Linked DNA regions of Homo sapiens. The protein of the gene in region 2 purifies or fractionates together with the protein of the main gene of each other region. This does not show direct contact. Each region holds a gene or a part of one and is shown on either strand. Other genes may lie near its edges.

Evidence for each region.
Region 1: the proteins of TRMT61B (region 2) and ACSF3 purify together in Homo sapiens (affinity purification with mass spectrometry; 2 studies listed by BioGRID and IntAct, with this or other methods). This does not show direct contact.
Region 3: the proteins of TRMT61B (region 2) and MIPEP purify together in Homo sapiens (co-immunoprecipitation; 2 studies listed by BioGRID and IntAct, with this or other methods). This does not show direct contact.
Region 4: the proteins of TRMT61B (region 2) and ACAD9 purify together in Homo sapiens (co-immunoprecipitation; 3 studies listed by BioGRID and IntAct, with this or other methods). This does not show direct contact.
Region 5: the proteins of TRMT61B (region 2) and GLS purify together in Homo sapiens (affinity purification with mass spectrometry; 2 studies listed by BioGRID and IntAct, with this or other methods). This does not show direct contact.
Region 6: the proteins of TRMT61B (region 2) and PDK1 purify together in Homo sapiens (affinity purification with mass spectrometry; 2 studies listed by BioGRID and IntAct, with this or other methods). This does not show direct contact.
Region 7: the proteins of TRMT61B (region 2) and ACAT1 purify together in Homo sapiens (co-immunoprecipitation; one large-scale study listed by IntAct). This does not show direct contact.

The regions. Positions count from the first base shown.
Region 1 is NC_000016.10:89,100,352-89,103,851, forward strand, and holds part of ACSF3 (malonate--CoA ligase ACSF3, mitochondrial isoform 1 precursor), read left to right. Parts: intron 1-310; 5' UTR 311-330; coding exon 331-996; intron 997-2,252; coding exon 2,253-2,408; intron 2,409-3,500. UniProt on the Homo sapiens protein: Catalyzes the initial reaction in intramitochondrial fatty acid synthesis, by activating malonate and methylmalonate, but not acetate, into their respective CoA thioester. May have some preference toward very-long-chain substrates.
Region 2 is NC_000002.12:28,849,321-28,853,309, reverse strand, and holds the end of TRMT61B (tRNA (adenine(58)-N(1))-methyltransferase, mitochondrial precursor), read left to right. Parts: intron 1-810; coding exon 811-902; intron 903-2,011; coding exon 2,012-2,238; intron 2,239-2,699; exon of another isoform or gene 2,700-2,904; coding exon 2,905-2,982; exon of another isoform or gene 2,983-3,067; coding exon 3,068-3,111; 3' UTR 3,112-3,368; coding exon of another isoform or gene 3,369-3,460; 3' UTR 3,461-3,489; downstream 3,490-3,989. Other genes in the region: SPDYA (speedy protein A), read right to left, coding at 3,369-3,460.
Region 3 is NC_000013.11:23,837,401-23,840,900, reverse strand, and holds part of MIPEP (mitochondrial intermediate peptidase), read left to right. Parts: intron 1-1,174; coding exon 1,175-1,252; intron 1,253-3,144; coding exon 3,145-3,349; intron 3,350-3,500. UniProt on the Homo sapiens protein: Cleaves proteins, imported into the mitochondrion, to their mature size.
Region 4 is NC_000003.12:128,882,620-128,886,119, reverse strand, and holds part of ACAD9 (complex I assembly factor ACAD9, mitochondrial), read right to left. Parts: intron 1,468-3,500; coding exon 1,374-1,467; intron 1-1,373. UniProt on the Homo sapiens protein: As part of the MCIA complex, primarily participates in the assembly of the mitochondrial complex I and therefore plays a role in oxidative phosphorylation.
Region 5 is NC_000002.12:190,883,821-190,887,320, forward strand, and holds part of GLS (glutaminase kidney isoform, mitochondrial isoform 1 precursor), read left to right. Parts: intron 1-3,500. UniProt on the Homo sapiens protein: Catalyzes the first reaction in the primary pathway for the renal catabolism of glutamine. Plays a role in maintaining acid-base homeostasis. Regulates the levels of the neurotransmitter glutamate, the main excitatory neurotransmitter in the brain.
Region 6 is NC_000002.12:172,559,090-172,562,589, forward strand, and holds part of PDK1 ([Pyruvate dehydrogenase (acetyl-transferring)] kinase isozyme 1, mitochondrial isoform 2 precursor), read left to right. Parts: intron 1-3,130; coding exon 3,131-3,202; intron 3,203-3,500. UniProt on the Homo sapiens protein: Kinase that plays a key role in regulation of glucose and fatty acid metabolism and homeostasis via phosphorylation of the pyruvate dehydrogenase subunits PDHA1 and PDHA2.
Region 7 is NC_000011.10:108,138,567-108,142,066, reverse strand, and holds part of ACAT1 (acetyl-CoA acetyltransferase, mitochondrial isoform b precursor), read right to left. Parts: intron 3,170-3,500; coding exon 3,026-3,169; intron 2,003-3,025; coding exon 1,852-2,002; intron 463-1,851; coding exon 367-462; intron 1-366. UniProt on the Homo sapiens protein: This is one of the enzymes that catalyzes the last step of the mitochondrial beta-oxidation pathway, an aerobic process breaking down fatty acids into acetyl-CoA.

The DNA.
Region 1 (3,500 bases), on a different chromosome or scaffold from region 2:
TTAAGTGTGTTGAATTTTATATGCTTCTCCTTGGTTTTACCTAGTTTATTTCATTGTTTAGAATTTTGTGTGGTTTGGGAATCCTTAAACTCATGAAGTGAAATAGAAAGCTGAGATGCTGGGCACGTACGGAACGTTCCAGCAGTGTGGGTGAGAAAGGCTGGACGTGGCCTGTCTGGTGCGCTGCCTCATGACTGAAGGTGCAGCAGGCGTACCTGGCTGGGTACTGGGGAGGTGTTTTAAATCCTGTCTTGGCCACGTTTGGATGGGACAGTTGGGCACTCACGTCCTGTGCCTTGCCTTTCTCCAGCTCGGCCGCCTGTCAGTGCAATGCTGCCCCATGTGGTGCTCACCTTCCGGCGCCTGGGCTGCGCCTTGGCGTCCTGCCGGCTGGCGCCTGCGAGACACAGAGGAAGTGGTCTTCTGCACACAGCCCCAGTGGCCCGCTCGGACAGGAGCGCCCCGGTGTTCACCCGTGCCCTGGCCTTTGGGGACAGAATCGCCCTGGTTGACCAGCACGGCCGCCACACGTACAGGGAGCTTTATTCCCGCAGCCTTCGCCTGTCCCAGGAGATCTGCAGGCTCTGCGGGTGTGTCGGCGGGGACCTCCGGGAGGAGAGGGTCTCCTTCCTATGCGCTAACGATGCCTCCTACGTCGTGGCCCAGTGGGCGTCATGGATGAGTGGCGGTGTGGCAGTCCCCCTCTACAGGAAGCATCCCGCGGCCCAGCTGGAGTATGTCATCTGCGACTCCCAGAGCTCTGTGGTCCTTGCCAGCCAGGAGTACCTGGAGCTCCTGAGCCCGGTGGTCAGGAAGCTGGGGGTCCCGCTGCTGCCGCTCACACCAGCCATCTACACTGGAGCAGTAGAGGAACCGGCAGAGGTCCCGGTCCCAGAGCAGGGATGGAGGAACAAGGGCGCCATGATCATCTACACCAGTGGGACCACGGGGAGGCCCAAGGGCGTGCTGAGCACGCACCAAAACATCAGGGCTGTGGTGAGTGCCGCCTGGCGCCGTGATGGTTTCGGTGACCGCACAGCACTCCGGGTGGGCTCCGGGCCAGAAGCACATCTTTTCATTCGCTTTTCTGTGGAGTCATTCACAGTTGTCACCATCCTGCAGACCCGTGTGAGATACAGGGACGCAGGCCCTCGGGGTGTGGCCGCTGGCCTCACTGGCCACGCAGGACGGCTCTGGGAGCGTCCAGGTGTAGAGGGATTGAGGGGCCGCCGAGTGACCCTGCCAGGACCATGCGGCATGAGGTCAGAAGGGACCACTCACTGCCTGTGATGCTGAGGGGCTTTTCGGAGGCCAGCCACGTGTTAGGATGCGTGGTCAGGACCCCACATACACCCGGGTCTTACTCGTTTTTTGTGTGTCCTGTGACCTCAGTCACATCTTCACAGAACTCTCCAACCACATCACTTACCTGGCATTTGTACAGTGTCATAACGTCTCCTATGCACTTGAAGCAATCAAGTAAAAATGAAAACCAAAAGCCAGGAAGGGGAAGGCAGGAAGTGTACCCCACGGAGTCGTGGGCTGACGAGGCGCCATGAGCACACAGCAGGCTGGGCCCTGGGTGGCCTGCGCCGTCACTCCTGGAAGCGGCGCGCCTGTCGGGAGGGACGGGCTCTGGACTCCTCTGTCCTTGCTGAGGGGAGTGACATGCACATGTGCTTCTCCCTGGAGCCTGTGCAGGCAGCAGGCAGTGTCCTCCGTGAGATTGGACAGAGGATTCAGTGGGCCGTGCCTCACGCTGCTTCTCAGTAAGAGCTGAGGGTGTGCTCTGGAGCCTGGCCTGGGTTCTGTCCCGGCTGAGCAGGTGACGATAATTCACGAATCGGCAGAGCTCTGTGTGGGCAGTGCTGTCACCTGAGCCAGTGGTTGGGCTGGGAGTCGATTCCAGCCTGAATGGCGCTGGGTCCCTGAGTCCCAGGCTTGGGCAGGGGCGGAGCTCTGTCGACCTGGTGTCTGCAGAGCCACTCCCCGACCTTCTAAATTCCCTAAAGCCTCTGGCTGTGTGTGGCGCTGTCCTCTGTCCCCAGGGTAAGTGAGTGACCCAGCAGATCTGCTGTGGTTTTGTCGTCATCTTGAGAGGCTGCTAAAGGGGAGCAACAAAGAGCCAGCCTTCTCCTTCCCCTTCCTCAGTGGGGAGGCCCAGAGCTCCTTTCCGTGAGCCCGAGGTCTGTGTGTGCTGTTGCGGGCCACAGTCTTGCTCTTGCTCTCAGCTGTGCTCTCGTCCCCTGCAGGTGACCGGGCTGGTCCACAAGTGGGCATGGACCAAAGACGACGTGATCCTCCACGTGCTCCCGCTGCACCACGTCCATGGTGTGGTCAACGCGCTGCTCTGTCCTCTCTGGGTGGGAGCCACCTGTGTGATGATGCCTGAGTTCAGCCCTCAGCAGGTGAGTTGGGGTCAGGGCTCTCGGTTGCACCCTCAGACTAGGCGCCTTTCCCCTGTCGGGGCCAGGGCTCTCAGCCGCGCCCTCAGCCTAAGCGCCTTTCGCTGGTTGGGGTCAGGGCTCTCGGCCGCGCCCTCAGACTAGGCATCTTTTCCTGGTGTGCAGTCGCCCCTATCCACAGGGGACGTGCCAATGCCGAGACCCTGGGTAGCATGGAACCCTGTACCTACGATGCTTTTTGCTATACATACGTACCTATGATAAAGCTTAATTTATAAGTTAGGCACAGTAAGAGGTTAACAATAACAGAACAGTTATAACCATGTACTGTAATCAAGTTATGTGAAAGTGCTCTCTCTCTTCAAAATACCTTCCGGTACTGTGCTCGTCTGTTGTGAGACTGCAGTGGGCCACGCGTCATTGAAACCGTGAATAGTGAGACTGGATGAGCGGAGGTGACTGTACAGGCCCTGCTGCCCGCGAGCTCCTGCGGCTGCGGCGAATGCTCACGCGCTTGGTTTAAAATAATGCGAGTTTGTTCTTACATGCTTGGAGGCCAGGATTCTGAGACGAGTCTTGCGGAGCTGATGCTGGGTGTGGTAGGGCTGCTCCGTCAGGAGGCTCCAGGGCAAAGTCCGTTCCTGCCTCTTGCAGCTCTGGAGGCCGCCTGTGCCCTTGGCTCCAGCTGCTTCACGTCCAGCTCTGCTTCTGCAGGCACACGGCCTTCTCTCCGTAGTCAGGGCTCCCTCGGCTTCCCTTTGTGCAGCCTATGCGGATATTCCAAGATCATCTCCCATCTTGAGGTCCTTCGCTTCATCCACCTGCAGTTCCCACCACTGCGAGAGGTGACACATTCGGGGTGTAGGGCGTAGGGCGTGACCCTTTGAGCTATGATGTGGCCACTGTGGCAGCCCTCGGTTACTCCAGAGTACTGGCCCAGCTGGAGAGCTGCTTGCTGCGGAGGGTTACTTTGGAGTATTGGCCCAGCTGAAGGGCTGCTGTGGAGTCTCTGTCTCCCCTCTCTGCATGGCTTCCTCTGTAGCGTCTCCCTTGGAGCAGGCAGGGAGGGAAGGACGCGGTGCTGGTCACACAGAG
Region 2 (3,989 bases):
CAGCTACTCGAGAGGCTGAGGTGGGAGGGTTGCTTGAGTTCAGGAGGTGGAAGTTGCAGCGAGGTGACATTGTGCCACTGTACTCCAGCCTGGTCAACAGAGCGAGACCCTGTCTCAAAAAAAAAAAAAGGAAATTCACATTGTCTCAAATGTTTAAATTTTTCATGTTGTAATGGCGTGTTTTACACTTGGCAATATTGATAATACAGGCATACAGGAATCTTTCTTTGGTTATATTCATATATACATACATAGCCAAATCAATATTTCCATATTAATATGCAAAGTACAAGACATATCATTATGATTTTTCAGTATCATCAAGTACTATGACAAATTGTTTTTTCTTCCCTGAGACAGGATCTCACTCTTGCCCAGGGTGGAGTATGATGGCACAGTCATAGGTCACTACAGCCTCGAACTCCTAGGCTCCAGTGACCCTCCCACCTCAGCTTCCTGAATAGCTGGTACTACGGGCTTGTGCCACTGCATCCAGCTACTTTTTTTTTTTTTCAATAGAGTCAGAGTCTCGCTATGTTGCCTGGGCTGTTCTCAAACTCGGCCTCAAATGGATCCTCTTGCCTCAGCCTCCCAAAGTGTTGGGATTACAGGCAGAAGCCACATTGCCCAACTGTATAATAATTAACATACCCTTTTGGGAGTGGTAAAATGATAGTTAATAATACTACCTTCTAAAAAATGAAATACTTTGATTGCTGTCCAAAAGTGTGTCATTTCACCACAATAAGAAAACTTATGCTTTATTTAAACGGAATCAGACTGATCCAGTTCTCTTTTTCCCCCACACAGGTAGCTTTGGATATGTTAAATCCTCATGTTACTTTGCCTGTTTTTTACCCACATCTTAAGCATGGTGGTGTATGTGCTGTATATGTAGTAAAGTGAGTAATATAACTGTTTTTCTTTGTAATGTAACTTTTAAGTGCACTTTTGCTTAAGTATCAAACTAAATTTTTTTTTTTTTTTTTTTTTTTTTGAGACAGAAAAAAACTCTGTCACCCAGGTTGGAGTGTAGTGGTATGATCTCAGCTCACTGCAACCTCCACCTCCCCTGTTCAAGCAATTATCCTGCCTCAGCCTCCCAAGTAGCTGGGGTTACAGGCGCCCGCCACCACGCCCGGCTGATTTTTTCTATTTTTGGTAGAGAAGGGGTTTCACCATGTTGGCCAGGCTGGTCTTGAACTCCTGACTTCAGGTGATCTGCTCACCTGGTCTCCCAAGGTGCTGGGCTTACAGGCTTGAGCCACCACGCCCAGCCAAAATATTCATTTTGTAACTGAATAAAGTGTATATGGCATCTTATACAACTGTTTTAAAATGACAAGTCCCAAGTTCATTTATATTACTGTATATTTATTTAGTGTTTTTTTTTTTTAAACTTTTTTCGTTTTTTTTTTTTTTTTTTTTTTTGAGACAGAGTCTCGCTTTGTCACCCAGGCTGGGGTGCAGTGTCATGATCTCAGCTCGCTGCAACCTCCGCCTCCTGGGTTCAAGTGATTCTCCTGCCTCAGCCTCCTGAGTAGCTGGGATTACAGGTATGCGCCACCACACCCGGCTAATTTTTGTATTTTAGTGGAGACAGGGTTTCACCATGTTGGCCAGGCTGGTCTGGAACTCCTGACCTCAAGTGATCTGCCCCCCTCAGCCTCCCAAAGTGCTGGGATTACAGGCGTGACCCACGCCCAACCCTATATTACTGTTTAAATCATTTTTTACATAAATAGTAATATAAGATGCATATTTTCTTCTGACAATCTGGAAGAAATGTTTTAAAAGTATAATGTGAACAGTAATGTTAAATTATGGTCTCTGTGTTTGTTTACTTAGAATTTTGTGAAGGTACTTTTTATGCCTCCTAACTTGCATATTTAAACCCTCTCCTGCCTTAATTTAACTATGGTATTTAAATGTGGGCAAGAGGTATAGGGAACTTAAATAAATATAATGTTATTATTTTAGTAGAAATGTAAATTTTTCACTTTTCTGAAAGCATCACACAGGTTATTGAACTTTTAGATGGAATTCGCACCTGTGAACTTGCTCTTTCATGTGAAAAGATAAGCGAGGTCATTGTCAGAGATTGGTTGGTTTGCCTTGCAAAACAGAAAAATGGAATTTTAGCTCAAAAAGTAGAATCTAAAATCAACACAGATGTACAACTAGATTCTCAAGAGAAAATTGGAGTTAAAGGTGAGCTGTTTCAAGAGGATGACCATGGTGAGCTTCAGTTTTACTTTATGCATGCAGTAATGAATGGAGAATGAGTTCCTGAGTATACTGACCAATAGATTATAAAAATATTCCTCAGCAATTTTCTATAGAAAAGTGTGATATTTATTCTGTTAAGATGTATAAGGCACAGAATAATGACTTTTCCTGCCTTTTACTTAAAACTCTGATACCTTTGAAGAATTGAGCTTTTTATAATATTCATATTTTACTTGTCACAAGGAGCTTGGTTTGTGAAATAATTTAAATGTATTAAGGATGTTTTATATTTAGATCACTGATTATTAATGGGACCTGATAGGCAAATAGCTAATATTCCAAAAAGCAACTTCTAAGATGCTGCTGGAATTCTTGAAAGAACTGAGTTTAGGTCTTTGTCATATATACACATTATTTAGGCCATGAACAAGTTTTCAAGTATCAGTTGATTTATGATATAGGCTTATCCATTTGGTTATAAAATCATATGTTTATTACATAATCATTGACAAATAGTTTCTGTATAATAACTGGCAGAGTAGCTCTAAAACATATGCAAGGAAATAAATAAAGAAAAAACTTACAATAAAGAGAGTAACTCATATTTTAACAGTTTTGTGAAAAAAATAGAAAATATTTTATGTAGCTTATAGTACATATATTTTTTTACAACAGAAGAATCGCATTCTGATTTTCCATATGGATCATTTCCCTATGTTGCTAGACCAGTACACTGGCAACCTGGTCATACAGGTGAGTAATGTTTTCAGAACATATTAAATGGTGTTTTTTCTTTTAATTAATATAATGACTTTATGTTTTTCTTCTCTTAAATTAGCTTTTCTTGTCAAGTTGAGGAAGGTCAAACCACAACTTAACTGAGTACTCCAGATGACAGTAACTGACTTGAAGATGGAAAAATATCAAAATAGAACTTTATATTGAAAATCACTGCTTCCATAGATTGGCATTTTTAGCTATTACTATGACTTATATAACTTATACATATAATTTTGAAAATAACAACTAAAAGATGTATAACATAGCAAAACTGCTTAAACATCCCATTTTGACACTTGTCTTGCAGTTAGTTTGACATTTTGTAGTTAATGATTCCAAATTGGTTTAGTTGGGCCATCTCATTCTTCACTTCCTGTAAACCACTCCATAGATTTGTCTTTCTTCAAGAAATTAGTTTTCTTTCCTTTATTTGATTGATGGTCATTGACTACTGAAATAAAATATGCATTTTAAGATAAATTTTATGTATCTGTCCATTTTAAATACATCTTATAATGGCTTGTATATGTCTTAAAAAATAATAAGGAAATCTGGGCTACAGTAAATAATGGGGGGAAACTTAAGAATGATATAATCACCTTAAAAATTGTAACAAAAGATGTAACAGGCTCTTGAATCTCTTTTATCCCCTCAGAATCTTTTTAACCAGCTTGAAAGAACATTAGAATTATTCAGTGTTACTACACAAATTAAATGTTTGGGGGCTGGGCACAGTGGCTCACGCCTTTGGGAGGCCAAGGCAGGCAGATCACCTGAGGTCAGGAGTTCGAGACTAGTCTGGCCAACATGGCAAAACCTTGTCTCTACTAAAAATACAAAAATTAGCTGGTTGTGGTGGCGGGCACCTGTAATCCCAGCTACTTGGGAAGCTGAGGCAGGAGAATCGCTTAAACCTGGAAGGCGAAGGTTGCAGTGAGCTGCGACTGTGCCACTGCACTCCAGCCTGGGTGACAGGGCGA
Region 3 (3,500 bases), on a different chromosome or scaffold from region 2:
CTGATTTATTTAACTTCTTTGATAATAACTTCAAACCTAGCAATCATCTTTCTCCTGTGAAGGCCCACTTTATATGAGGCATGAATATTTTAAATTTTTCCTCATAGGATTTGAGGCTTTGTTGACCTGTGTGTGTCACTAAGGCTTTGTATTGTTTTGTTGTTTGATTTTTGCTAGCATGCTTACCACACTGCTTTCTTCACTATATTTTAAGAAATGTAAACAGTCTCATTGTCTCTCGGCCACGTCTTGTGAGTGGAGAGTAGGTGTGGTGGTGGGATTGAAAGGAGAGTCAGGGTGGGAGGACGTTCATCACTGCATTGATTTACTTCACTATCTGTATTACAAACTTCCAAAAAAGATAGAGATTGATAAAATGCTGAGATATAATAAAAAGAAAAATTTATAAGAGGAGACTGAGAGGACAAAATGCGGGTGATGAAGGGTTTCCCCAGAACTGCAGAATGTGCACTCCACCGGGGTCCAGCACTGTTGTCAGTTGCATTCACTTCTGTATCCTCAGTGTCTTGAAGAGTTCCTGGCACCAAGTAGGTGCTTAACAGATGTTTGATGAACAATAAATATATACTTGCAGGTAGTTTTAAAGCACAAAATCGGGGTTCTCTTTGATGGAATCATTAAATTCTGAAAGAACAAAGAAGGCAAGATGGAGAGTAGTGATTGAGTCTCTCCTATAAGCTATGTCTCTTGGAGAGGGGATAGATAGTAATATTGCTGATTTTTAACTCAAGCTGGGAGCTGCATTGTGGTGTTTTCAAATTCAAGGGTTATAATTTGCTTGGGCGTATATCACGACATTCCAGGATTTGAAGGAAAAATAATTTGCTCCTAAAATTGTCCAGCCAGCACTTCTTCCCAGCTCTTGTGGGTGGTTAGTAAAGGTATTGTAGAGGATAGGCAGTCAGGACAAAAGGCCCTCATGAGGAGGATTTCCTGTCCTGGACACAGAATTCCAAAACCAAAATCATTCAAGAGATGGAGCAGAAGAGGATGCGGGGAAAAGAGAATCTATCTCGAGATAATGTGGGGTGTAGAATGTAATTAAAATGTCTATATGTGTGGCTATGGATGTTTAATATACAGATTCTTGTGTTAGGGATTTTAGAGAATCAGATGGCCTCATTTACCACCAAATTTAAATTTTTTTTTCTAGGCTGTTGTTCATGAATCTGAAGGATTGTTGGGGTACATTTACTGTGATTTTTTTCAGCGAGCAGACAAACCACATCAGGTGATCCTTTCTTTATAAACTGGTCTCTCTAGAACCGATCGGCATTTCATTTGTATTGATGTGAACTTTGTATCATTTTTTAAATTCCATGACATTTAAAAGTTACTAATGATGGTTACCAAATATATACATTTGAAATTAAGATAGAATTTTAAAATTAAAAAGTTTATGGAAATAATTACATCAGTCTATATTTGTCACTTTTATCTGGGTCATGGTATTAATTATAGTAACAATGACAACTGACATTTTATGAATCCTTATTTGTGCCAAACAGTGCACTGAGCCCGTTATACACATCAGCCTTTTAATGTTCGCCTCACCCTTTTGACTAGTTACTCACATTATGAGGAAACTGAAGCCATAGAGGTTAAGCTACTTGGCCAGAAGTGCTAGGACTTGAAGGCATACATCCTGAGCAGATCCCCAACTTTTAACTCTTTTCCATACTCGACAATGAACCTATTCTAAAACTGCGGAAGATACTCCATGTGGAAACCTTACCAACCACCAAGTAGCTCCTTATGTGGAAGACTTGAGGCAGCTCATCTCCTTTTCTTTAGCATTGGCCGACTTTGACAGCCAGTCAGCTTTAGCAGTTTCATGTAGCTTGATGGGAAATGTCAAGAGTTTAGGTTATAAGTTATAACAGAAATAATGTACCTTATGTTTGAATAGTGATTCACAATTTCCAAAGCACAGATTTTAACAGATGTGAGCTTATGAATTCTGGACAGCCACTGTGGGATTTGACAAGGAAGCATTTTAGAGATGAGGCTTGCAGAAGCAAATTATTTTCCGAGATGATTTGTCTAGTAGGTGTGAAAGGTAGGAACAGGGTGCAGGTCACCAGACTCTGAGGCCAGTGTTCTTCCTCTTTGCTTAAATGGGTGGGTGGTGGAGACTCAACTTTAGTGATTAGGAGCCCTGGCTCCTAATAGTCAGCCTGGGTTCAGATCCAAGGTGTGGCAGTTCTAGCTAGGTGTCCTTGGACATGTTATTTAATAATCCTAAGACTAGTTTTAGTTTTATCATCTGAAAAGTGAGATACCTGCTACATAGGGTTGTTGTGGAGAATAAGTGATACAGTGTATGTGAGTCTCAGTGTAGTGCCTGTTTCAGAGTAAGTTATTCTGGCTCCGGATCCCTTGCTTTACACTAGTTTAGATCCCATCTCGTTCAAGTGATAAAAGTCAAGAGAGGCTGGGCGCGGTGGCTCATGCCTGTAATCCCAGAACTTTAGGAGGCTGAGGCTGGCAGATCACTTCAGTCCAGGAGTTCAAGACCAGCCCTGGCAACATAGTAAGACTCCATCTGTACAAAAAAAAATCTAAAAATTTAGCTGGGTGTGGTGGAGCACACCTGTAGTCCCAGCCAATCAGTAGGCCAAAGCAGGAGGATGGCTTGAGCCCAGGAGGTCCAGGCTGCAGTGAACTGCGATCACAACACTGCACTCCAGCCTGGGCAACAGAGCAAGACCCTATCTTAAAAAAAGAAAAAAAAATAGCCAAGAGACATGGAAAGTACCTACTAGTTCATTATCTGACACATAGTAGGGACTCAGAATAAATGTTAGTGTCCCTTCGTAAGTTCTTTGCTGACTTTGTTTCCAGCTTCTGGCACAGCATCATTTCAATGCATGTTTTGGGACCAAAGTAATGAGTTAATCCATAGAAACTGAATGTGTTCTTGATGTTTTAAAAAATTAAAATTTTAGCAGAATAAAAAATGTCAAGAAAAGGTGTATATATGTAAATAGATAGAATAAGAATATAATTAAGTTAAAGTTTGCACTCACACATTTTTGGTGAAATTTTATATTCATTAAGACTGTTTTACTCTTCACATTACCAAATACTTTCTTTTCCTTTTATGTTTTCTGATTCTTAAAGGATTGCCATTTCACTATCCGTGGAGGCAGACTAAAGGAAGATGGAGACTATCAACTCCCAGTTGTAGTTCTTATGCTGAATCTTCCCCGTTCCTCAAGGAGTTCTCCAACTTTGCTAACTCCTAGCATGATGGAAAATCTTTTCCATGAAATGGGACATGCCATGCATTCAATGCTAGGACGTACTCGTTACCAACACGTCACTGGTGAGCCATGAGGAGGGCTTTTATTTACTACAGTCCTTTACAAACATACATTTTCTTTGAATTGGGAAAGGGGCTTTTTATTTGGAAAATGTGATCATTTTACCGTGTCCTGTGGTCTTTATCTCAGATTGCCTCATCCTGCCCTCCCCAT
Region 4 (3,500 bases), on a different chromosome or scaffold from region 2:
GAAAAACAAAAACAAAATATTTTTCATTAAAAATATTATGTTAACATGTAATGGATTTATTATTTTTAAACAAATGAACACAGTATATTTTATTTTTTTTTTTTAGACAAAGTCACACTCTGTCACCCAGGCTGGAGTGCAGTGGTGCAATGTTGGCTCACTACAATCTCTGCCTCCTGGGTTCAAGCAATTCGCCTGCTTCAGCCTCCTGAATAGCCGGGATTACAGGCACCCGCCACCATGCCCGGCCAATTTTTGTATTTTTAGTAGAGACAGGGTTTCACCATGTTGGCTACGCTGGTCTTGAACTCCAGACCTCAGGTGATCTGTCCCCGTTGGCCTCCCAAAGTGCTGGGATTACAGGCGTGAGCCACTGCACCCAGCCCCACAGTATATTTTAAATTTCTCAGTTTTAATTTCTAAGAGGGGCTAGGCATGGTGGCTCACACCTGTAATCCCAGCCCTTTGGGAGGCCAAGGTGGGAGGATCACTTGAGCCTAGGAGTAGAGACCAGCCTGGGCAATATAGTGAGAACCTGTCTCTATGAAAAATACAAAAAAATTAGCTGGGCATGGGGGTGCGCACCTGTAGTTCCAGCAACTCAGGAGGCTGAAGTTGGGGGACTGTTTGAGCCTGAAAGATGGAGGTGGTGGTGAGATGAGATGGTACCACCACACTCCAGTCTGAGCAACAGAGCTAGGCCCTTTCTCAAAAAAATAAAGTAAAATAAAAATAAAATAACCCCTAAGATGGCAAATATTGATAGATAAAATTCATATAAACAAAAGCTCTCCAGGATCCTACTATTAGGGAAGACCTGCTGTCCATCCACCATCACTGAACTCTCCACCAAGGCCCTGGCTGGAGGACCGGCCAACAGCTCTGAGAGAGGGACCTGAGGTCAAATGCTGCCTCACCATGCAGGTGCCAAACTGTGGCTGGTCCACAAATCACTCTTTGTTTACAATTACCAAAGTACAGAAATTGAAACTCAACCTTTAGAAACACTAAGAGCAACTGTACACTGCCACAACAACCAACACATGCTCCATGGGCTTGTATGGTGTGTGGCCTTGGCTTTTTGCCATCTAATTTTTTTAGTTATTCATTTTTATTATAGCTTTATGGAAGTGTTGACCTGGAACAGTATGGAAATGTTTAAAGTGCTCCTGAACCACAAATACAATGAGAAGCATTTAACTGGATGTTTTTTAATTAAATGGCAATAGGGATGAAACCTAAAGCAAAATATTATGAGTGGAAACCATTTCTCCCTCAAGAAGACTTCTCCTATGTATGTCACTTCTAATATAAATATCAACCAAATAGCCCTTACAATGGAAATCGGCAATGGTAAAGAAAACCATACATACCCTCTTCAGTGAAGAATTTTTCCACGGGTCCCAAGAACTGATTGATTTCATTAAGTTCATCTTGGCTAACTTCTGGAAATGGGAAAACTTCTTTCTAAAAATAGTAAATATTTTCTAAAAAATTTAATTTTTAGCACACTCCCATCACGGAAATATCAGTTAAAAGGGAAGGAAAAACATGTGCTCCACTCCACCCTGGCCAGCGGGACATGACGTACTGAAGGAACTGGAAAGCAAACCTCACAAGGTTCCTGAGATACAGAAACTATGTGCAGGCTCCACCACCCACATCCATCTCCCTCCCCTGTTCAAATAGGTTCTTCCCGATTTTCATCAGTTTTCCTTCTCAGTACAAGGGATGATAATAGTCCCATGAAACAAGGAGCCCAAGACTAACATTTAGAAGCCTGGGGGTCTGGTCCTTGATTTCAGGCTTACTCATTATGTGGCCTTCACCAAATCCCTTCAGCTCTCTAAACTACCCCTTTCTCACCCATAACATGCAGGTAATATTTACTCAAGGCCCTTGTGAGAATCGTGGAAGATAGTGGATGTGGAAACTCCTTACTGAAATGGACAATTCTACATCAATTATTGTGTGAGCTCAAAGATGCTATGCTGACAAGAGCACATCATGCTTACCAAGTCTCATCGATCCCTACAGCCGCTGTCTCTCCTGCTCACAGACATCTGCTCCCTGTGCTGAGCCCCTCTGGACTTTTGGGCTCTGCTACCCCTTCAATTGCCAGCATGACATGAGCTTTGGATGTGGGCTTCAGGCTGTTGAGCAGTGATGTCCTGAGTCAGAGCTATAAGCCCAAGCATCACCTGTCCTCATGGCGCCTCTCACCAAGTGTTCTAGAGAAGTCTTGGGGAGACCTCAACCTTCTCCTCAGACCTTGTACAGCTAATCAGCCAACAGATTTCTCTACTCTATCAATATGCTCGCACTGCTTTCTCCTCTCTGGGCCCAGGACCACAGGCTTATAGGTGAGTCCCTAACTAAAAGTGACAGCCAACTTAAAGGAATCCCTGCCTCCATCCATTCCAAAACCACCCTGAAGGTGGTATAGAAAAAAAAAAAGGTTGGAGGCCAGGCACGGTGGCTCACGCCTGTAATCCCAGCACTTTGGGAGGCCGAGGCGGGCGGATCACGAGGTCAGGAGTTTGAGACCAGCCTGACCAACATGGTGAAACCCCGTTTCTACTAAAAATACAAAAATTACACGGGCTTGGTAGCACGCGCCTGTAATCCCAGCTACTCAGGAGGCTGAGGCAGGAGAATTGCTTGAACCCGGGAGGTGGAGGTTGCAGTGAGCCGAGATTGCGCCATTGCACTCCAGCCTAGGTGACAGAGTGAGACTCCATAAAAAAAAAAGAAAAGAAAAAGAAAAAAACAAGCTTAGCTGGTTGCAGTGGCTACTGCCTGTAATCCTAGTCCTTTGGGAAGCTGACGCAGGGGGATTGCTTAAAGCCCAGGAGTTCAAAACCAGCCTGGGCGTGGTTGCACACGCCTGTAGTTCCAGCTACTCAGGAGGCTGAGGTGGGAGGATCCCCTGAGCCTGGGGAGGTTGAGGCTGCAGTGAGCTGTGATTGCACCACTGCACTCCAGGGTGGGCAACAGAGTAAGACACTGTCTCAAGGAAAAAAAAAACAAGAAAAAAAAAAAAAAACAAGCTGATGGCTCCATCACTCTGCAGCCTTTTATATCAAAGCTCAGTCTCCTTCACTGAACACAGAGGCTCACTGACACTTGGGTCTTGTGCAATGGGCTGTGTTAGAGATCATTCTGGTACCAGTGGGCAGGCCAGATAAGACTGCCTGGCAACTAATTGGCCTTCAGGTACAACCACAGAAAACCTGCCACACAGGAGAGATTGCAGGGGCGTGGGAGAAAGATCCTGATGTTATCAAATCAGGTCAATGCCTTAGGGGAGGAGAGTTCAATTGCAATAAACAGTTTGTAAATTATCTAAAAAAGTGGAACCTGTTATTCAAAGAAATCTAGTGCAGAAACCAAATATGTAAAACAGACAGAAGCAGGCGGCTCTGACTGAGACTGCTGATAGGGAAAACAGGCACCCAAATCCCACCCACTCAACTTCCCACCCATCCCTGCAGCAGTTC
Region 5 (3,500 bases), about 160 Mb from region 2:
GATATCTGCGTTTCCTCCTTTCCTTGGTCCTGAGTTTATATTTTATTTACTTTATATTCTGGAAGGAGGCGTGATATAAGCAAGTTACTTTACCTTTTTTTCACAAACTCTTTGAACTAATGTCACTTTAGACTATGCTGTTTCCATCACGCAACTTTAGTGTGGTTTAGGATACGAACGTCTTAATATCACATAGAAAAATTTAATGATCTTTGCTCAGTTTTGTCTTTAGTGATCTTATTTAATTTTGTTATGGTTCATTCTGTTATCTTGAAAACCAACTTTGCTTGCCTCTCTTCGTTTTCAAAATTGTTCTCTCTTCTTTCCTAGTTCTTTTTGAATTTCCTCACTGGGTAAAAACCCTGAGGCTGAGGCCTTTGTCCCTTTCCCACTTGTCTGCCTTCTCAACAGCGTATCCCTTCTTTCAGCTTTGACTCTCATCTTTGTGTAGGTAATACTTCACCTCTTAATCCAAAGCTCTGTTCTTAAATTTGTCGCCACATATTCAATGACTTCAAATTTTAAGTCTGTACCCTGATATTCATTCTTTTCTCCAATTCAACCTATTTTGCGTACTGTTATGAGAGTAATTTTAGAGTTTTAATTTGAAAATAGCACTCTCTTCCAGAAAACCAGCAGGATCTGGAATGAGCATTATATTAAAGTCACAAACTATGTTATGGTTTATGCCAGCACTTGCCCATATGGACATTTTTATCATACTTTTCTCTGTTAAGCTGGTTATACTTATTTCCATAAAGTCCAGAAGTATGTATCCTATCTTAGTGAATGGTCCCTAGGAAGAGTCAGAGGGATAGAGGTAAGGGGCATTATTAAGTTTTTTTATTTGGACATTTATTTTTTAATGAGAAAGGAAAAGAGATACATAACAGAAATTGGGCTGGAAAAATACCAGCATATGTATGTTGTTAGAAAATAGATAATTCATACAGGATGCAATATTGAAAGTATTCTGTTAAAACAACAATGAGGTCACTTTCCCCTTCTCAGATTGGCAGATGTTAAATCAAGTAATTGGGAAAATAGGAACTCTAGCATTGCTAGTAGAAGTATAAATTATTAGTTCAGTTACTTTAGGCAGTTTGGTAGTTTCTGTTAAAAACTGCATAGCTGTGATGTGGTAGTTGGATGTTTGCATATCTACATGAAGTCGTGGCATTCAGAAATATTTGTAATTACACAAATAAGCATGCTTTAAAATATATTTATATTTAAAAGTAAAAATGCAAGCAAAAATGATTTCAGCTAGCTTTAGTTAGTATGGATTTATGTTTTGATAGTTCAGCTTTATGTTTTGATAGTTATGGACAATGAAGGGCAAAGAAAATCATCGAGGTGTATACTCTGAAAATTGAATTTTTTTTTTTTGAGATGGAGTCTCGCTCTGTCACACAGGCTGGAGTGCAGTGGTGTGATCTCGGTTCACTGCAACCTCTGCCTCCCGGGTTCAAGCCATTCTCCTGCCTCAGCCTCCCGAGTAGCTGGGATTACAGGCACCCGCCACCATGCGTGGCTAATTTTTGTTTTTAGTAGAGATGGGGTTTCACCATGTTGGCTGGGCTGGTCTTGAACTCCTGACCTCAGATGATCTGCCCGCTGTGGCCACCCAAAGTGCTGGGATTACAGGCGTGAGCCACCGCACCTGGTCTGAACATTGAATTTCAAAGTAAGATGAAATGCTTATGAATTTCAGCGAACATTGAATTGGGTAGATTGAACAATACTAGTAAGGAAGTTGAGTTAGTATTTGGCAGATATAAATATTAAGTTTTAGAACTGAATGACAAAACCTCTGTTAAAATGGGGGCACATGTTTTTATGATCCTTCAGTATTGCATTTGGTTTTAATTTTAAAAGCTAACATATTTACAATTCACTTAAGCTAAAATCAAGGTGGAAAGTATGTTTAATTTTTTCCTTTGGGCTTCTCAGGCAGCCCCTTAGTTATTTTTGATTTCTTCATTATTAAAAATTTTTTTCTAGGTGATGATTATCAGTGAGTTTTAGTTTTTTTTTTTAAATTTTATTTTTATTTATTTATTTATTTTTGAGGTGGAGTCTCACTCTGTCACCCAGGTTGGAGTGCAGTGGTGTGATCTCAGCTCAATGCAACCTCTGCCTCCTGGGTTCAAGTCGTTCTCCTGCCTCAGCCCCCCATGTAGCTGGGACTTACAGGCACGTGCCACCACACCTGGCTAATTTTTGTATTTTTAGTAAGATGGGAATTTACCATGTCAGCCAGGATGGTCTCGACCTCCTGACCTTGTGATACGCCTGCTTCGGCCTCCCAAATTGCTGGGATTACAGGCGTGAGCCACTGCACCCAGCCCAGTTTTGTTTTTTTAAAAGCAAGTGAAAAAGGTACCAATAACTATATGTCATAACATTTTTGTGACCTAATATTTATATTGAAATGTGCATCAGTCATTGATAACTTTGTCCATGATCTGTAATTAACAAACTCATGCTGTTAATTTATAGTTTTATTAATATTTGGATGAAATTCACTGAAAGAACAAGAATTAGATTCTGAGGGGTTTAGTCTCCTGGACTTTTAGCTGCATATTTCCAGACCTTACTCTTTTATAGAGAAGTCTACCTACCTCAAAGTCAGCTAATCCATGAAATGACTACCAAATAGAATTCAGCCTTTTTTATGAGGCAATATGTAGGCCAGCTAAAAGGGAGGGGGGGCACTATTTTAGTCCAAAGATAAATGTCACTTTGAAAGAAATTTGCTGAAGATATTTGTGGGTTTCTTTGAGTTTTAAAAAGTTATTTAAAAGAAATCAGGCTGGGCGTGGTGGCTCATGCCCGTAATCCCAGCACTTTGGGAGGCCAAAGCAGGTGGATCAGTTGAGGTCAGGAGCTTGAGACCAGCCTGGCCAACATGGTGAAACACTGTCTCTACTAAAAATACAAAAATTAGCCAGGAGTGGTGGCGGGCACCTGTAATCCCAGCTACTCGGGAGGCTGAGGCAGGAGAATCGCTTGAACCCAGGAGGTGGAGGTTGCAGTGAGCCGAGATCATGCCGCTGCACTCCAGCCTGGGTGACAGAGCGAGACTCTTGTCTCAAAAAAAAAAAAAAAAAGAAAGTAATAGTAAAAGGCTGTACTACTTCCTTCTTGTGATATTTGAAATGAAGAAAAATTATGACCATATAAGCTGAAAGCCTAATTATAGAATTTGTGTGAGGGAGCTCAATCATGTTAAATCCTATATAAATTAAGGTTATATTTTATAGTTGCCTGTCTGTGCCTTTTCACCTTTAAGTCATTTGCTAGTAAGAGAAATGCTTAAGAAAGGTGAGTAAACAGATGTATTTATAAAAATAGTTATTAATTACTGATATCTCTCAGTGAGGTACATAGCTTTCACATAGAGATACTGTTAGTACAGTTTTACCCTGAAATCTACTCAGGTGCAAAATTGCTTTGGTTATGAAACACATTACTTGTGAGTCATCACTGCACTTAGT
Region 6 (3,500 bases), about 140 Mb from region 2:
AGGCACGTGCCACCACGCCCAGCTAATTTTTGTATTTTTAGTAGAGACAGGGTTTCACCATGTTGGCCAGGATGATCTCGGTCTCCTGAACTCGTGATCCACCCACCTTGGCCTCCCAAAGTGCTGGGATTACAGACGTGAGCCACCGTGCCCGACCAGAGTCTTAAGGTAGTAGCAGTATTCTTTTTTTGGCTGGGGGCAGGTGGGGGCAATGTATTTGGGCTTGTGCCCTGAATCGTGGACTCCACAACTTCTTGATTTTGAGAAAGCCAGTCAAAACTGCACTGAAATACAGATGCTAAATTTAGGATTTATGTTAGTATATCTTCAAGGATATTATAAGAAAAAATGTCTGCAATTTGTTGATGACTGGGTATTTATGTATATTGCCTTTAATCCCTTCAACAACCTTGCACAGTGGGTATGATTCTCTCCATTTTATTCATTGTTATTATTTTTATTTACTTTTTGTTTTTGAAATGGAATCTTGCTCTGTTGCCCAGGCTGGAGTGCAATGGCATGATCTTGGCTCACTGCAACCTCTGCCTCCTGGGTTCAAGTGATTCTCCTGCCTCAGCCTCCAGAGTAGCTGGGATTACAGGCACCTGCCACCATGCCTGGCTAATTTTTGTATTTTTAGTAGAAATAGAGGTTTCACCATGTTGGCCAGGCTGGTCTCAAGCTCCTGACCTCAGGTGATCCTCCCACCTTGGCTTCCCAAAGTGCTGGGATTACAGGCATGAGCCACCACTCCTGGCCTACTTATTTTTTTGAGACAGGTTCTTACTCTGTCACCCAGGTTGGAGTGCAGTGGTGATCACAGCTCAGCTCACTGCAACCTCCACCTCCCTGGCTCAGGTGATCCTCCCACCTCGGCCTCCTGAGTAGCTGGGACCACAAGTGCATGCCACACCCAGCTAATTTTTGTATTTTTTAGCAGAGATGGGGTTTTTCCATGTTGCCTACGCTGGCCTCAAACTCCGGAGGTCAAGGTATTTGCCCACCTGGGCCTCTCAAAGTGCAGGGATTATGGGCATGAGCCATTGTGTCTAGCCTGTTTATTATTTTTTAAATTAATTTATTTTCTTTTTAGAGACAGGGTCTCCATCACCCAGGCTAGAGTGCAGTAGTGTGATCATGGCTCACTGCAGTCTTGACCTCCTGGGGTCAAGAGATTCTCCTGCTAAGGCAGCTGCCTCCCGAGCAGCTGGGACCACAGCCATGCGCCACCATACCTGACCAATTCTTTTATTTTTTTGTAGAGATGGGGGTCTCACTTTTTTGCCCAGGCAGGTTGTGAACTCCTGGGCTCAAGCAGTCCTCTCACCTTGGCTTCACAAAGTGTTGGTATTACAGACATGAGCCACCGCACCTGGCAGGTTAACTCTGTACAGATGAGGATGCTGAGGCACATAAAGGTTAAATCTTTTGCGTAAGACAGTACCATTGATAGTGGAGTTGGGATTCAAACCCCCATTTGTCCATCTCTGCTATACCGTGCTATAGTCAGAATGATGAAATATATGAAAGGATATATGTATTTTTAATAAACTGTGTTTATTGAAGGGTATCTTTTTATAAATTACAAAAGTTAAAATGTTTATTTTTCTGTTTTAAAACAATTAGAAGTTTTTGGAATTGTGTAGAAAAAGTGTGATCTCTTCCCAAAGATAAGTAGAGATGTTAAGGGTATACACTCATGGAGCCACCTATATACAGCCTTCATTAATGTTACTGATTTAAAAGTGTTGTTCTTTTAAGCACTGTATGCTTCAAACAAATGAGTTGCCCAGAGTTAAGTCTTAAATGGAAAAGGTTTAGCTGCAGGGCATTTCCCAGTTATGATTCATGGAGATTCAAGTTTTCTTTTTGTAAGCATTATAGCGTATGGGAGAAGTTGATCTAATCGCAATTTAAAAAAGCAAAATATGACTGCTATATATATGATAATCAGATGCTATCTAGTCCAAGTATGGAATAGTTATAAGTGTGGATTAAATGGGAAGCATTTGTTTAGTAATTATGATGGGATATAATGGAGAAAATATAATATTCCATGGAAGATTTTTCCTGTTTTTAAAAAATTCTTCATTAGAAGTAGAATATGCTGCTTTTTGAAGCTTATCAGTCATGAGGTCTGATCGGTGCCTGTTGTAGGTACTCAAATATCTCTTGGATGGAGAGCGTAGTTGTTCTTGCCAATTAAGAGGAAATTAAGGGTTAAAGCAAAGCAGCAGCTGCTATCAGAATCCCTTAACTTTGGAATGCAGTAAGACATATTGCTTGTCAGAAACAGCTTTCCAAACCAACAGATGGAATTACAGGTTTTTAAAGCACTTCCATTGCTCCTAGATGCCTGCTAAGTTAGGACAGTTGCAGATAAAGTGCTTACAGCCAAGTGGAGCAGATCCCTTACACTGTCGAAGAAAGTAATTCAGTGGTAGCAAGTTATTTTTAGCTCTGGCCCCGCAGTGCCATTGTACTTGCCTGCAAGACCATCAGAAAATCATTTGGCCTTCTCTATTTTGCTCATTCCTTAACAGATGCTTTGATACTTCGAATTGTTAGATAAATTTAAAATGTACATTTTTATGACTTTTGTGTTTTTTGTTCAGTTTAAAAGAACCATGTAGATTATAGGCTTTCAATAAATACTTGTTAGTTGGACATAAATATGTAAAATTAAGGTTTTAAAGCACAGATATTTAAGATACAGTCTTAGAGCAAGAGAGGCTGTCCTCCTTTTACTGATAATAAGACAAATTAAGTCATTTGCCCAAGATCACATAGTTACTGGTGACAGATCTCAGCATAATCAGTATATATACTGTAATGTACAGTGGTAAATTAAAAAAAAATTAAAAGCCATTTTAGAATGTAGAACTCGGAAAATCTTAAAATTCTTAAATTTGACCTTTGCTTTTAGGAGAAAATGTGCACCTTCTACCATTCATTCCCAGCACTTTGCTTGAATGTGCATGGGTGTAAAAATTATACTTCAACCATAATTTATAGCAGTATTCTAAATTAAAAATTATAAAATGCTAAAAATAGCTTTTGAGCTAATTTTCATGATATTGAACTTTCAGAATATAAAAGAACAAACTTATCCTATTGATCTGCATTTTAGGTATATCCAGAGTCTTCAGGAGCTTCTTGATTTTAAGGACAAAAGTGCTGAGGATGCTAAAGCTATTTATGAGTAAGTTCACTATTTTGACCCTATTCTTAAACCTATTATTAGGTCACTTGGGGGAAATTGGTTAACTTTTAGGTTTCTACTACTTTAGAACATGTGATATATGTGACTGTAGCAGCCCATACAGGCAGGACAAATAACAATCAGCAAATTTGACTAGGCATAAGAAATGCTTCGTGTTCCTCTTTAACAAAAGACAAAGTTCAGGTGTGATGATCAGTGGAAATGTAGGTGTGGCCTCAGTGCCAGTTGGACTGTTCACCTGGAGGGTGCATGCTCCTTCTAATGGACAACCACCTTC
Region 7 (3,500 bases), on a different chromosome or scaffold from region 2:
TAGAATCACCTGGAGATAAATATAAATGAATGTTAAAAACTACCAAACCACTTTAAATAGAAGAATGTTATTATGGTATATAAATTATATCAATAAATCTGTTTTTTTCAATGCCAATGAAGACCCTATCATAGACTGCTACATATGAAAAACTGAATTCTATAGTCATGTTATACATATCTTCCCTGGGATTTATATATTGAAGGTATAAACTACCAAAACAATTTTACATGAGCCTGATATACTGAAAATGTTAAATAACATCTAGATGTTTTCTAGAATTTTTCAAAATCCTTAGGCAATTCTAAGAACTAGATATGGTATACTGGCTCAATTTTTTCTTATGCTTCATTTCTTAACACTAACCATTTTCTTTCTGGAAAACTGTCTTCAGCTTTGGAACTTTGCTAAAATCAACACGTTTATATTCTTCATCTTCTTTCACCACTACATCTGGTTGACCTAAAATAAAAATATTTTAAGTAAAATCGCTCAAAACAAGTAGTCATTCAGCAAGCAACTGTTGTACAAGATGCCTAGTAGTCTGTGCCTCCCTTTGTATCCCTGCTTCACTTAAACCATCCCAAGTAAACACTCATCTAGAATCTGTTAACTATAACCTCTATTATGTTACCATCTTAAAAAGAGAAACTTACAAAGTAGCTTCACAATTTTTTTTTTTTTTTTTTTTTTTTTTGAGGCAGGGTTTCCCTCTCCTGCTTAGGCTGGCATGATCACAGTTTACCTCATCCTCTCCAGGCCCATGTGATCCTCCCACCTCAGCCTCCCAAGTAGCTGGGACTACAGGTGGGAGCCACCACAGCCAGCTAATTTTGTTTGTTTGAAATGGTCTTGCACAGTCTCCCAATAGAGTGCAATGCTACAAACCTAGCTCACTGCAGCCTCGGACTCCTGGGCTCAATTGATCCTCCTGCCTTGGATTCCCTAGTAGCTGGGACTACAGGCGTGTGCTGCTATACCCAGCTAATTTTTAATTTTTTTGTGTGGAGGCCAAGTCTCACTTCGTTGCCCAGGCTGGTCTCAAACTCCTGGGCTCAAGCAATCCTCCCACCTCGGCCTCCCAAAGTGTTGGGATTACAGGTGTGAGCCACTGCACCCAGCCACAAAATTTAAATCTTCTACACCTCCATGTCCCCTTTTCTTCCTCAACTCCCTTCTATGATCACAGACCCCACTCTCCTGACCCCAGAGGCAGCTGTCTGACCTACACTAGATAAGCTCTAGTATTCTGTCACCTAGAGCACAGTAATCATTCCTGGAATAGAATTGTAACCTAAAGCAAGTTAATGAGTCTTCATTGTGGATTTATTCTGCTGGAACTGGTGAGAAAGTCTCTCCTTTTTGAGAACCCTATATATGTGACCCTAGAGGTAGAGGCAGCAACTTTAGAAAGGCTGAGAGAATAAAGCACAAAAGCCTGCAGGTGTGAGAAGCCAAGAGAGCATGTCTTAGTAGTAGTGAACACCCAGTTCCAATCCCTGAAGTTCCCAGAGCTGAATGGTTGCTACTGTTCATCCTTCAGTTCTTGGAGGCACTCCCGGTAACCTTCTAGTAAATCCCTTTTCAATTTAAAATACCGTATTGACTGTCACAGGAAAAAGTTCTAATAAATTTCTCAAATTTAAAGTAATACTCAGGGATCTTATAAATGGATTGAAATCTGACATTAAGTTGGGTAGATTTATATTCTCTCTGAACTGGCAACTCTTCACTTTTTATTAACCATAAGCAGTTGAAATGAACCAAGATAATGTCCTAATTTAAAACTTAAGCATAAAACATTCAGCAACATGAAAAGTCTATTCATCCTTTTTGGAACATTATCTCTACCTTTTACTGTAACTGTGACAGGAATAACTTCATTTCCAAATTTCCCAGCTTCCCATGCTGCTTTACTTCTGGTATAAGAATTAATAGCATAAGCGTCCTGTTCATTTCGTGCAATATTCAGCTTCTTTGCTGTATTCTCAGCACAGCTGCCCTGATAAAAAGTTGAAATATTTTAAAGTTAACTTTGCATAATTTAGAAAATATCTATTAACTTTGCCTAACTTATAGTGTTTAATAGTTAACGTTTCTTAAAATATATTTCTTAGGCCGGAGGTGGTGGCTCATGCCTGTAATCCCAGCACTTTGGGGGGCCAAGGCAGGCAGATCATGAGGTCAGGAGATCAAGACCATCCTGGCCAACATGGTGAAACCCCGTCTCTACTAAAAATTAGCCGGGCATGGGGGCACGTGCCTGTAGTCCCAGCTACTCGGGAGCCTGAGGCAGGAGAATTGCTTGAGCCCAGGAGGCGGAGGCTGCAGTGAGCTAAGACTGTGCCACTGCACTCCAGCCTGGGCAACAGAGCAAGACACCATTTCAAAAAAATAATAATAACATATATATATACACACACACATATATATTTCTTTCTATACCAGGTCACTTTTCACTCATGTCTTTTTTTGAGACGGAGTTTGACTCTTGTCACCCAGGCTGGAGTGCAGTGGTGCAATCTTGGCTCAATGCAACCTCCACCTCCCGGGTTCAAGCAATTCTCCTGCCTCAGCCTCCTGAGTAGCTGGGATTACAGACACCACCACCACGCCTGGCTAATTTTTTTGTATTTTTAATAGAGACAGGGTCTCACCACATTGGCCAAGCCGGTCTCAAACTCCTGACCCCAGGTGATCCACCTGCCTCGGCCTCCCAAAGTGCTGGGATTACAGGCCAGAGCCACCGCACCCAGCCACTCATGTCTTATCTTCACATACTTGAATTAGCCAAGCAGTTGCCAGCTAAGCGTCAGAAATTACCCTATTTAAATGTGGGAAAATTTCTTTAATGACTGAGCCATGCCGATGCAATAGGCATACAAAAATATTCTCCAAAAGTACACGGCTAAAATCAACATTTATAGAGCCCATCTTTCAGTTCAGTTTGTAAAGTACATAGAGTAAGAAAAATCAAACAGTATTGGACATTAGATAGCATTTATCCACTAAAAATCACATTTACCATATGAATTTTATTGTAGACATCAGTTAGCCCGTCTTTTACAATCAAATCTTCAAGCTTTACCCCACCATATGGTGTTGATCCTCTGTTCATTACATATGGAACATTGGACATGCTCTCCATCCCACCTGCCACCATCACATCCTGCGCAGAAACACCAGAAAAACCCAATGTTAATACAAATATTTTGCAAACCCATGACACCCTTTATACAGCTACCACCAAACAAGTATTCTACATGCATTTATTAAACATTTGTTACACAGTGAATACAGGAAGTACCCTCTTTACCACTTCACCCTGATGAAAAGAAATGGTGTTAAATAATATAATGAGAAATAAGTTGGCTGGGTGCAGTGGCTCACACCTGTAATCCCAGCACTTTAGAAGGCTGAGGCAGGTGGATCACTTGAGGTCAGGAGTTCTGGATCCGCCTGGCCAACATGGTGAAACCCCGTCTCTACTAAAAATACAA